Regions from separate parts of the Homo sapiens genome. Here regions 2 and 3 are each reported to be linked to region 1. The links are microRNA targets in miRTarBase. Many come from high-throughput screens and were not tested one by one. Region 1 holds a microRNA gene; each other region holds the end of a gene's coding sequence.

The links. Region 1 holds the annotated microRNA hsa-miR-4258 (CCCCGCCACCGCCUUGG, at 2,733-2,749, opposite strand). A microRNA usually pairs through its seed, bases 2 to 8, with sites in the 3' UTR of a target mRNA and lowers its output. Matches are read on the target gene's strand: a 7mer-m8 pairs with bases 2 to 8, a 7mer-A1 pairs with bases 2 to 7 and ends in A, and an 8mer does both.
Region 2: the mRNA of ZNF677 is a reported target of hsa-miR-4258. The part of its 3' UTR that is shown has no 7-base or 8-base seed match.
Region 3: the mRNA of NLRP12 is a reported target of hsa-miR-4258. The part of its 3' UTR that is shown has no 7-base or 8-base seed match.

The regions. Positions count from the first base shown.
Region 1 is chr1:154,974,303-154,978,451 of GRCh38, reverse strand. It overlaps MIR4258 (microRNA 4258), which reads right to left and starts at 2,759; the gene lies at 2,669-2,759. CKS1B (CDC28 protein kinase regulatory subunit 1B) reads right to left here and starts at 3,771. Exons shown (of 3, transcript NM_001826.3): 1 at 3,648-3,771; 2 at 338-465. The coding sequence starts at 3,706. It also overlaps a transcript of SHC1 not described here. RefSeq lists enhancers at 3,366-3,425, 3,526-3,675, 4,126-4,149 and a silencer at 3,946-4,035.
Region 2 is chr19:53,233,579-53,237,578 of GRCh38, reverse strand. It overlaps ZNF677 (zinc finger protein 677), which reads left to right. Exons shown (of 5, transcript NM_182609.4): 5 at 1-2,198. The coding sequence ends at 607. Among named protein-coding and RNA genes, the nearest start is that of ZNF677, 19 kb to the left of the region's middle.
Region 3 is chr19:53,790,722-53,794,721 of GRCh38, forward strand. NLRP12 (NLR family pyrin domain containing 12) reads right to left here. Exons shown (of 10, transcript NM_144687.4): 10 at 3,020-3,415. The coding sequence ends at 3,328. Among named protein-coding and RNA genes, the nearest start is that of MIR373, 4.0 kb to the left of the region's middle. RefSeq lists enhancers at 1,425-1,925, 1,926-2,426.

The DNA.
Region 1 (4,149 bases):
ATATACTTTCCTTTGCTTATTTAGAACACATCCAAGAATGTTTTCGATGGAGAATGAGGCAGGGGCTATGATCAGGCTATATGTGGCCTTAAAAAGAATACCCTCTGATTGAATGAAAGATTACAGGAGGTTTTTCAGTGACAGGTTGTCTCTGAACTTCCCAGATATTTTAGTCTTATTTTTGGTCACTAGTTTTTTTTTAAAAAAATCCCCCACGACTGGAGGGGGAAGGAACCAGTAAACCATTTCCTATCTCCCTATTTGGGTTATACAATCTTATTCTTTCATTCTCTCAGTGTAGCAGTTCTATATGGTTGTTTTTAGCCAGTGCACTGACCTGGTTCATGGATCATATAATGGACCCATCCCTGACTCTGCTGAACGCCAAGATTCCTCCATTCAGATTCAGACATCAGATGGGTTTTAGGGACCAGCTTGGCTATGTCCTTGGGCAGCATGACATGTCTGTAACAGAAACGGGGAAGTGGGGAATTTATGTTAGTACCAGATACAGTCTCTTAGACAAATGCCTGTTTACAAGGCCAAGAAAGGAAAGAAAAACTGGTTTTTGATGTCAGAGTTTATATAATTTTATTGTGGGGTAGCAGCAGCTAGAAATACAGGCTATGTTATATAAATTCCGAGAGTATATTAAAAATACAAATTAGTGAATAATTCCAGTGAATGAGCACTTAAGTTCAAGGCACATTTTCTCCGCCTTCATGGACCTTATAGTCTTCTAGTTGATTATCTACAACATAATGGGAGCCCCACGGAGCACACAGTGTTAATAATTAGAAGGAAGGAAGAGAAGTTATTTTGTGGCGAGGAAAGGCCTTTTATGAAGTACTGTGTGGACAAGTTATTACAAAGGATGAAATGAACTATCTTGTCCTTTAAAATCTAAGCCAGGCATGGTGGCACAAACCTACAGTCCCAGCTACTTGGGAGGCTGAGGCAGGAGGGTCATTTGAACCCAGGAGTTTGAAAAAGATACAGTATGAAGTTTGAAATCTGATTAAAATACAGAAGAAATAGGCCAGGGGCGGTGGCTCATGCCTGTAATCCCAGCACTTTGGGAGGCTGAGGTGGGTGGATCACTTGAGGTCAGGAGTTGGAGACCAGCCTGACCAACAACGTGAAACCCCGTCTCTACTAAAAATACAAAAATTAGCCGGGTGTGGTGGCATGCACCTGTAATCCCAGCTATTTGGGAGGTTGAGGCAGGAGAGAATCCCTTGAATCCAGGAGGCGGAGGTTGCAGTGAGCTGAGATCTGGGCGATAGAGTGAGATTCCGTCTCAAAAAAAGAGAAAAAAAATAAGAAAAAAGAAAGGGCTGCAATGCACAATGGTTGTGCCTGTGAATAGCCACTGCACTCCAGTCTGGGCAACAAAGCAAGACCTTGTCTCTTAAAAAAAAAATTAAATCTATCCTGAATCTTATTTTCCTAACTCTGGAGGGATGTACCTTGAGACTTTCTGGGTAAATTCCGTGCTTTTCTAACCAAGGATAAGTCTCCCTTCATAGCAAAAAAATTATTACCCTGATGTGAATCAAACTAATCCACATAGTCTTCGTCATGCTCAATGAAAATGTACTAAGTTCTCCCTCTGTGCTAGTAACAGTGATTCCCCACCATTCTCCTAAAAGAAAAAATTCTAGTCCAAATATAATGAAAATAGCTCACATTCTAACACCACCCTGGCACGAAATTTGGCTTCAATACATACACCAAAAAACCCCTCTTAAACCAAAGTGCCACTGCCAAGAGTTTCATCTTCCAGGGGATGAAATGGTGATTCCTTCCCAGCTCCACAAATCTCTTATAAGCACATACAGTTTTAAGTTAGTTTAGTTCAGATGTAGAGGAAAACAGCTGAGGAAAAGAAAGTTAATTAAAGGAGGGTCTGGAGCCGTCTTGGCATAAAGATGATTATGTATTTGTCAATGCACATCGAGTTCTCTGGAAGACCCAAAGCCCTGAACTAGGCTGGGTGAAGAGACACAAGAAAAGCAAGTTTTCATTTTATGTTCTCCAACTGAGGAGACAAGATACAAACCAGGAAGTGGTCTTAATTATTACAATTAATACAGATTAGCATAATGCCAACATTTGTGGAATCCTGTGTCTTCCCTTATTCCCAATCTAGATTATGCACTTAAAATTTATCAAGCCCGAATGCCACATCCAGTGCCAGGATTCCATCATCACCATCCTTGGCAGATGGCTATCCAGTGTCTTCTAAACAATTTCAGTCAAGAGGTGCTTCCTCCCACATACCTTTTTCTTAGAGTCTCATCTCAGGCTCTGCCCTCTAGGAAGCTTTCCCCAACATTCCCTCTTCCGTTTTTCCTCTCAGTATTTTAAGTTTCATGTTCAAGGGTACATGTGCAGGTTTGTTATATAGGTAAAATCCTGACTCGGGGGTTCGGTGTACAGGTTATTTCATCACCCAGGTACTAAGCATAGTACCCGACAGTTTTTTTTTTTCCTGAACCTCTACCTCCTCCCACCCTCCTCCCTCAAGCAGGCCCCAATGTCTGTTGTTCCCCTCTTTCTGTCCCTGTGTTTTTATCTCCGACATATAAATGAAAACACGCGTAGTTTACTACTGGTTTCGTTTTCAATGGTGGTGAAAGAGACATCACGCTGAATTGGCCCTTAGGACACTCCCCCGCCCCCAAACCAAGCCCAGGGAAGAAGACCGACCGAAAGTAAGAGGTCAGCCTCCAAGGCGGTGGCGGGGCGGGGGGCGTTCTCGAAGCGTGGGATGGGGGAGCGTCCTGGAGTTAGCAAAAGTAGGGGACTGACTTTCTAGCCCCACCTCAACCCCCGCTCACAGCTAGGAAGCCGCAGCCTTCGGGTCGCCAGTTCCCTCTCCTTAGCAAGTCTTGTGTGCTCCCATCACACCCTGTAATGGCTCCTTGCATAGCGTGTGTCACCTTTCTGGTGTCTGTCGGTACCACCCACAGATTTTTAAATTTGTGAACAGCAGAGACCATGTGTTATCCTTGCACTTTAGCAGAACACCTGAAACCTGTTAAGTATTCCGTAACTGTTCCCTTTGATATTTAAAGGGCATCTATTAGACCCATATTAAGTATTTTCTCAATGCTCCTAGCCAGTTTTATTCCATTGCAGTCCCAAGCGATCCCCTTCCTTACACAAGCCAGACAACCACGCCCCTTGTCTTTTTCACGAGTTAATAAGCAATATTCAACTCTCTCAGCGCTACTCTCCTGTTAGGGACGCCAGGAAACTTCCAGCTCCGCTTTTGCTACGTTCTCCCACTGGATTCGACAAGATTACTGTGAAACAGTCTCTACAAGGCAAGTTAAGTTTGCCCGATAAAGTTCAGAGAATGATCCAGAAAGCCTCATGGGTGAGGGTGGTCAGTACCCTAACCACGCCCACCCCTCTCTCCTCTCTACTGAGAGGCGACTCCAAATTCGCAACCACTTTGTTTTACGAGCGCCTCCCACCTCCGCGCATGCGCCTTACGCCTTCCACAATATCACACCATTGCCCGTTCGCACCTCGTACGCATGCGCCAATTCTATCGCCTCAGTTCCTGTTACTAATTCCTTGTGCCCTCAGCGGCCAAAGCTCACGACCCTCGCTATTGCTCCCGCGCCAGCACTAACCGATACTCAAACTCCTCGTCGTCGTATTTGTCCGAATAGTAAATTTGTTTGTGCGACATGATCGCTCGGTTTGCTAGCCTTCAGCCCCGCGCCGCCAACCTCCAAGCAACTCCCAACAGCACGCGCTCCCACCCACTTTGGCCTCGCTTTCAAACACGCCGCCCGCACTTCCTATTGGTCCGTTTGGCTCGAGGCGGGACACCTCTACTTTCAAGCCTCCGATTGGCTTAGATTTACTTCTCTTCGGATCCTTATTGGAGGGCAGTTCTCACGCTTCTCAAGAACGAGCGTGGGTCAAAAGTAGGCGTCTTATTGGCCACCACTGCCTTTGTGCGCGATCTCGCGCTGCCATTGGCTAACTCGGGAAAGTGGGAAGCGTGAAGGAGGGACCCTGAGGTAGAGGGTCAGGGGTTAGTGAGGCCGGAAGTGAGTGTAATAAAGTTTCTCCAGGGAGGCAGGGCCCGGGGAGAAAGTTGGAGCGGTAACCTAAGCTGGCAGTGGC
Region 2 (4,000 bases), not on the chromosome of region 1:
CTTTGCTGAACGTTCAAGCCTTACCCAACATAAGAGAATCCATACTGGAGAGAAGCCTTACATATGTAATGAGTGTGGCAAAGCTTTTAAGCAGTGCTCACATCTCACTAGGCATCAGAATATACATCCTGGAGAGAAACCACACAAATGTAATGTGTGTGGCAGGGCTTTTATCCAAAGTTCAAGTCTTGTGGAACATCAGAGAATTCACACTGGAGAAAAACCTTACAAATGTAATAAATGTGATAAAGCTTTTATCAAACGTTCACACCTTTGGGGTCATCAGAGAACTCATACTGGAGAGAAACCTTACAAATGTACTGAATGTGGCAAAGCCTTTACTGAACGTTCAAATCTTACTCAGCATAAGAAAATCCATACTGGAGAGAAACCTTACAAATGTACTGAATGTGGCAAAGCTTTTACCCAATTTGCAAACCTCACTAGACACCAGAAAATACACATTGAAAAGAAACATTGTAAACATAATATACATGGTAATGCTTTATTCCAAAGTTCAAACCTTGGAGATCATCAAAAAAGTTATAATAGAGAAAAACATATCAAATATAATGAGACAAAAATTAAGTATTCAAGCTGTACCTAGCATCAGGGGCTCCATTGTGAAAAGAAACCATATAAAACGAAAATGTGGTAAAGCCTTTAGCTATGGCTTATGTCTCACTTGATACCAGAATATACATCTTTGAGATAAACCACACAAAGATAACATGTATGGCAAGGCTTATCCAAAGTTCAAGCCTTGTGGAACATCATAGAATTCTTACTGTAGAGAAGCCTTACAAATATAATGAATGTGAACAGCTTTATAAAAATATTTACCCTATTATGGTTATAACAGAAGACATTCAGGATGGAAACCATACAAATGTGGCAAGTCCTTTAAGCAATGTTCTGACTTCAGGATACACCATTCATATTGGAGAGAAGCATTACAAGTGAAGGTGGTAAATTATTTTAAATTTCTCAATGGAAATTCATCCTTATATGCAAGCATTTTGTCATACAAAAATTCAGGCTAGAGGGAACTAAGTCTTTTTTCCTTCTTGAAGATTAAGTGATTGATGTTAAATTCACAGACAATTTTAAAAAGTCACAAACTCATGGTGTGTGTCAGAGGAGCAAGGACATCTGTGGAAAGATGTAACTTCAGTGTTAAAAATTTTTTATTCAGTTATTTCATATTTTTAAAAGTATGAAATCTGTTGCTGTTAAATCTTCATGGCATGCTTTTCATTTATCATGATTGTCTCAAGGAATGGATGTAAGATGGAAGGGACTACTTCCTTAGGTGTGGCTTCTTTATATTACTGAAACCTGGAAAAAGCAAGAACACTAATTTTTTCTTTTTTTGGAGACAGAGTCTTGCTCTGTCACCCAGGCTGGAGTGCAGTGGCACCATCTCAGCTCACTGCAACCTCTGTCTCCCGGGTTCAAGCAATTCTCCTGCCTCAGCCTCACGAGTAGCTGGGATTACAGGCATGCGCCATCATGCCTGGCTAGTTTTTTGTTTTTTTGTTTTTGTATTTTTAGTAGAGACAGAGTTTCGCCATGTTGGCCAGGCTGATCTTGAACTCCTGACCTCAGGTGATCCACCTGCCTTGGCCTCCCAAAGTGCTGGGATTACAGGCATGAGCCACCGTGCCCAGCCAAGAACACTAATATACAATATACTATAAGAGCATGGGGGTTTGTGCCAGAAGAGAGGTAAAACTATTGTCTAACATATATGCTTTATGTGGTCAGGACCCCTTAGAATTGTTGATGTGACTGGGGACCTTTGTCGATTATAGGAGAGATTGGTTACAGTACAAGATGACCATGAAACAAGAAGAGTAGGGTGGGACATTGAGAGATTTTCATGGAAGTGAAATGGTCGGTTACTAGAGACTGCATATGTGGTAGAAAGAAATGGAGGGGGAATGATAGTCACCCTCTCTTGAAAGGTAGTTACTGTTGCATATCACAGATTATTGAACATAGATAGGTCTTATTTTTGGAAACTGAAGAGAGAATGGTTACCATAGAGGACAGTTCCATCAAAAGAACCAGAGTAGTGTTCTTATAGGGGATTCACATTTGGCCCCTGAGATTGCATTTGATACCATTTTATTTAGAATATATTATACTTCTTATGTCTTAATTAGTAAAATATAATCATTTTTAGTAACCCTGAATGAATCGTGTGCCTTCCGTCAACCCAAGCATATCCCACCTCATTGGGACACTTAATATCAAACACTATAATACATCATTAGACTCTCAAGGTTGAATGTCATCTATAACAATTTCTATCCATGTTATGTTCAAACAGTATACAATTTAAGAAGTATATATTCATAATTTGCACTTGAAATATTTTCTCCACACTCTGCCCTAGATGACTTCTATGGCTATAATGAAAATGCCATGCCATAGTGGGACAATATCAGACCCCCTGAAACCTGTCTTCCTGTTCATGAATATGCACTGTGCAGTTATATTTCTACATGCCTTTTTTTCTACATAACTTTATTTCTGCATGCCTTTTACATGAGAGGAAAATAACAAATGTAAGCATATGAAAATTATTAGTAAATGAAATTTCTGAAATAATAACACAACTTCTTTTTTTGTACTTGGAGCACTCCGTGAAATAATTTGAAAAAAATCAGTGTTCATGAGTTTCCCCTTAATAATGAACATAAGCAATGGATTTTTTTTTTAAAGAAACTAGAAACCTCATGTATTTACCCCCAAAACATTTTTTTTTACTGATTTGCACTTGTCGCCACTCCACTGGAACAGGAGGGAACCCCGTGCAAAGTTTGGTTTAGATTTCAGGATTGGTGGTACTCTACATCAAAGTATTATAAGAATGTTTATTACAAAAGGCTTTCTGGAGAGAACAGGGTAGACTTCCCAAGCTGGTTAAAAAATGGCTAGAGAAGGCAGTGAAAGATGATTGACTTGGGGTGTTATGATGTTTATCTGGTGGGGCTGGAGTGAATACTCATCTGTGGTTTAAATTTTCAGCTAGCCGGCTGGGCAGGGAGGCTGACATCTGTAATGTCAGCACTTTGAGAGGCCCAGGCGAGGAGATTGCCTGAGCCCAGGAGTTTGAGACTAGCATAGGCAATATGTCAAGACCCTGTCTGCAAATTTAGAAGTTAGTTGGGCATGGTGGCACATTTCTATAGTGCCAGCTACTCAGGAGGCTGAAGCAGGAGAATTCCTTGAGCTCAGGAGTTGGAGGTTACAGTGAACTAGGATTATGCCACTGCACTCCAGCCTAGGTGACAGAGCAAGGCCCTGTCCAAAAAAAAAATCAATTTCTAGGCCAGGCACAGTGGCTCATGTCTGTAATTCTAACACTTTGGAAGGCCAAGATGGGCGGATCGCTTAAGCCCAGGAATTCGAGACTAGCCTGGGCAAACTGTCACTATAAAAAATACCACCCACCCAAAATTAACATTTGTTAGTACCTCATAACTTTTTTTTTTTTTTTTTTTGAGACAGAGTCTAACTCTGGTGCCTAGTCTGGAGTGCAGTGGCACAATCTCAGCTCACTGCAACCTCCACCTCCCAGGCTCAAGCGGTTCTCCTGCCTCAGCCTCTCGAGTAGCTGGGACTACAGGCATGCACCACCATGCCCAGCTAATTTTTGTATTTTTAATAGACACAAGGTTTCACCATATTGGCCAGGCTGATCTCGAACTCCTGACCTCAAGTGATCTGCCTGCCTAGGCCTCCCAAAGTGCTGGGATTACAGGTGTGAGCCACCATACCCAGCCTAATACCTCATCACTTTTTGTTGCTGAATAATATTCTACAGTTTGTCTGTCCATTCATTATTTGATGGAGATTTGAACTCTTTCTACTGTTTGAAATTAGGCTATTATGGGCCAGGTGCAGTGGCTGATGCCTGTAATCCCAGCACTTTGGGAGACCGAGATGGGCGGATCACGAGGTCAGGAGATCAAGGCCATCCTGGCTAACA
Region 3 (4,000 bases), not on the chromosome of region 1:
TTTGCCTCAGCCTCCCGAGTAGCTGGTATTATAGGCACCCACCACCATGCCCAGCTAATTTTTTTTGGATTTTTAGTACAGATGGCGTTTCCCCATGTTGGCCGGGCTGGTCTCACTAAACTCCTGACCTCAAGTGATCCACCCACCTTGGCCTCCCAAAATTCTGAGATTACAGGTTTGAGCCACTGCGCCCAGCCTTTAGTTGAGTTTCTTAAGCTTGTTTAGGGTTTAGCCTGTATGGCCAGCAGGGTGTAGGTGGGGGTGGTTTGTAAGCAGGGCTGTTTGCTTCAGAAGCAGCTGTGGAAACAGGACTGAATGCAGACATATAAAGAATATTGGGTAAATAACTTTTTAAAAAATTTAGAGATAGGATCCCACTATGTTGCCCAATCTGGTCTTGAAACCTAAACAATCTCTTATCCCAAAGTGCTGGGATTGCAGAAAGCTTAAGGCACAGTTTTACGTGGTAATGGTGGGCCATTTTTAGTTTCTTTTTTGTAGACGATCATGTCATCTAGGCTGGAATGTAGCGGTTCTGTCGAGCTAGGTGTAGCCTCCACTTCCTGGACTCAAGCATTTTTCCTCAGCTTCAGTAGCTGGGTCTATGCATGAATACCCCTTCTGGGGTAGATAGATAGTAGTACATAGAGTAGATAATTTTTTTGTGTTCAGGCGGCACCTTAAGGTTGGTGTAAAAATTCTTGGCCTTCTAAAGAGCTGGAATTAGACATGAGCTGTTGCACCTGGCCAATGGGACAATTATGTCTACAGGACTGAATCAGTATCTGATCTCTGGAGTTGTAAGGTCACTTTTTCTGAAACTGCCTCAGTCTCCTTGCAGGTTCTGGTCTGTAGATCTCCAGTGTGTGGGCTGAGCACAGCATGGGGACCTGATTTCCCACCGGGCAGTGACATAGTTTAAAGATTCTTAGTTCGAATTCCTAATAATGGGAATATAGGTTTCTGTGTATTGAAATGGGAATATGCATTTTTTTTTTTTTTAGAGTCTTGCTCTGTCACTAGGCTGGAGTGCAGTGGCACAATCTCGGCTCACTGCAACCTCCGCCTCCTGGGTTCAAGTGGTTCCCCTGCCTCAGCCTCCTGAGTAGCTGGGACTACAGGCGCCCTCCACCACGCCCTGCTAATTTTTTGTATTTTAGTAGAGACGGGGTTTCACCATGTTGGCCAGGATGGTCTTGATCTCCTCACCTTGTGATCCACCCGCCTTGGCCTCCCAAAGTGCTGGGATTACAAGCGTGAGCCTCTGCACCCAGCCAAGGGAATATGGATTCCTCTTTTTTTTTTTTTTTTTTTTTTTTTTGAGACGGCGTCTCTATCACCCAGGCTGGAGTGCAATGGCGTGATCTCTGCTCACTGCAACCTCTGTCTCCCGGGTTCAAGTGATTCTCCTGCCTCAGCCTCCCGAGTAGCTGGGATTACCCGCATGTGCTATCACGCCTGGTTAATTCTATATTTTTATTAGAGACAGGGTTTCTCCATGTTGGTCAGGCTGGTCTTGAACTCCCGACCTCAGGTGATCTGCCCTCCTTGGCCTCCCAAAGTGCTGGGATTACAGGTGTGAGCCACCACACCCTTTTTTTTTTTTTTTTTTTAAGATGGAGTCTCGCTCTGTCGCCCAGGCTGGAGTGCAGTAGTGCGATCTCGGTTCACTGCAACCTCTGCCTCCCAGGTGCAAGCGATTCTCCCGCCTCAGCCTCCCCAGCAGCTGGGACTATAGGTGCATGCCACCACACCCAGCTAATTTTTTGTATTTTTAGTAGAGATGGGGTTTCACTGTGTTAGCCAGGATGGTATTGATCTCTTGACCTAGTGATCCGCCCGCTTCGGCCTCCAAAGTGCTGGGATTACAGGCATGAGCCACCGTGCCCAGCCTAATTTTTGTATTTTTAGTAGGTTTCACCATGTTGGCCAGGCTGGTCTCGAACTCCTAACCTCAGCTGATCTGCCTGCCTTGGCCTCCGAAAGTATTTGGATTACAGGCATGAGTCACCGCATCTGGCGGTATTTTTGTTGAAAGCACAGTGTATAATAGGTTATGGCCAGCCTACACGTGGCCTTGTAGGTGTCAGTTCTTGGCAGGGCCCAGTGAATTCCAGGCAGGGGGCCATCCTGACATGCCTGCCACGTTAAGATTTCAGACATTATCCCCTCCAGCAAGGGAGGATCAGGGCTGTTGGCATAACAAGCATTCTGAGGGTTAGCTTGCATACCAGTCTCTTCCCAAATGCTGAGTTGCCCCATGTATCCTGTGACATTTGAGAATAGGCTTTCCTCAACTTGGCACAATTTGCCTTTGGACCAAGTGCTTTGTCCTGTGCATTCCTTGCTGGATGTTGGCATGCATTCCTAGTGTCGTCCACTAGATGGCAGTGGCACCCACCCCAGAGCTCAAATATTACTATGTTCCGATGCAGCCAGGGCTTGGCAGGGCTGGGTGGCCTCTGAGGGCCCCTACTGGCCATTTTTCACCGTCTCCCTCTGTTGCCCAGGCTGGGGCGCAGTGATGCAATGACAGCTCACTGCAGCCTCGACCTCCTGGGCTCAAGCGATCTTCCCACCTCAGTCCCCAGAGTAGCTGGGACTACAGGCATGTGCTGCTACTCCTGGGTAATTAATTGTACTAATTAATAGTAGTTGGCTAATTAGTAACAGTGGAGTCTTGCTATGTTGCTTAGGCTGGTCTCTAACTCCTAGACTTAAGCAACCCATCTTGCCTCCACCTTTGAAAGTACGGGGGTTACAGGCGTGAGACACCGCACCTGGCCCCTGTTGGGATTTACCCCTCCTGTTAGGGGCCATCAAACCTCTCTTAGTTGGTCATCCCTTAAAGCTCCGTCAAACTTTTTTTTTTTTTTTTTTTGAGATGGAGTCCCACTCTGTCGCCCAGGCTGGAGTGCAGTGGCGCGATCTCGGCTCACTGCAACCTCCACCTCCCGGGTTCAAGCGATTCTCCTGCCTCAGCCTCCTGAGTAGCTGGGACTACAGGTGCCCGCCACCATGCCTGGCTAATTTTTTTTTATTTTTAGTAGAGACAGGGTTTCACCATCTTGGCCAGGCTAATCTCAAACTCCTGACCTCGTGATCCACCTGCCTCGGCCTCTCGAAGTGCTAGGATTACATACATGAGCCACCACGCCTGGCCAGCTCTGTCAAACATTAATTTGATCCCAAGCAGAGGGACTTTTGATCTCAATCTGCATGAGTCTGTCTCTAGGAAGGAGGCTGATCATTATGCTGGGGGGGTGATGAGCACCCTCCCATCTTCCTCTGTCCAGATCTCAGGGGAGAGCCAGCAGATAGGACCATTCAGCAGCCAATGTCCAAATAAGGTTTTGTTACTCGAAGCGCTGCCAACCTACTGTGGGTCATTTTATTCAGGTCCATCCCAAATAACCTGTGGACACAAGAGTTGATATTATTCCAGTGTACTACTGTGGCATTCAATTAATAAGCCTTAAGTATCTATTGTGCACTACCGTGGTAAGATAATTCCATGATCCTCCAGAAATTCCACCCAACGCTGCTGGAAAGTAGGCTTACTACATGCTACATGCAAGTCCCCAAGCTGTGTTAACTGCATAATTTTTTTTTTTTTGAGACACAGTCTCATTCTGTCACCCAGGCTGGAGTGCAGTGGTGCAATCTCAGCTCACTGCAACCTCCACCTCCCAGGTTCAAGCGATTCTCCTGCCTCAGCCTCCCCAGTAGCTGGGACTACAGGCGCCCACCACCACGCCCGGCTAATTTTTTGTATTTTTAGTAGAGACAAGGTTTCACCCGTGTTAGCCAGGATGGTCCTAGTCTCCTAACCTCGTGATCCGCCCACCTCGGCCTCCCAAAGTGCTGGGATTACAGGTGTGAGCCACCACACCTGGCCAATTCATAATTTATCATAGCCTTATGAAGATGCAACTATGTTCTCCATTTTTTTTTTCTTTCCCCAAGATGGAGTCTTGCTCTGTTGCCCAGGCTAGAGTGC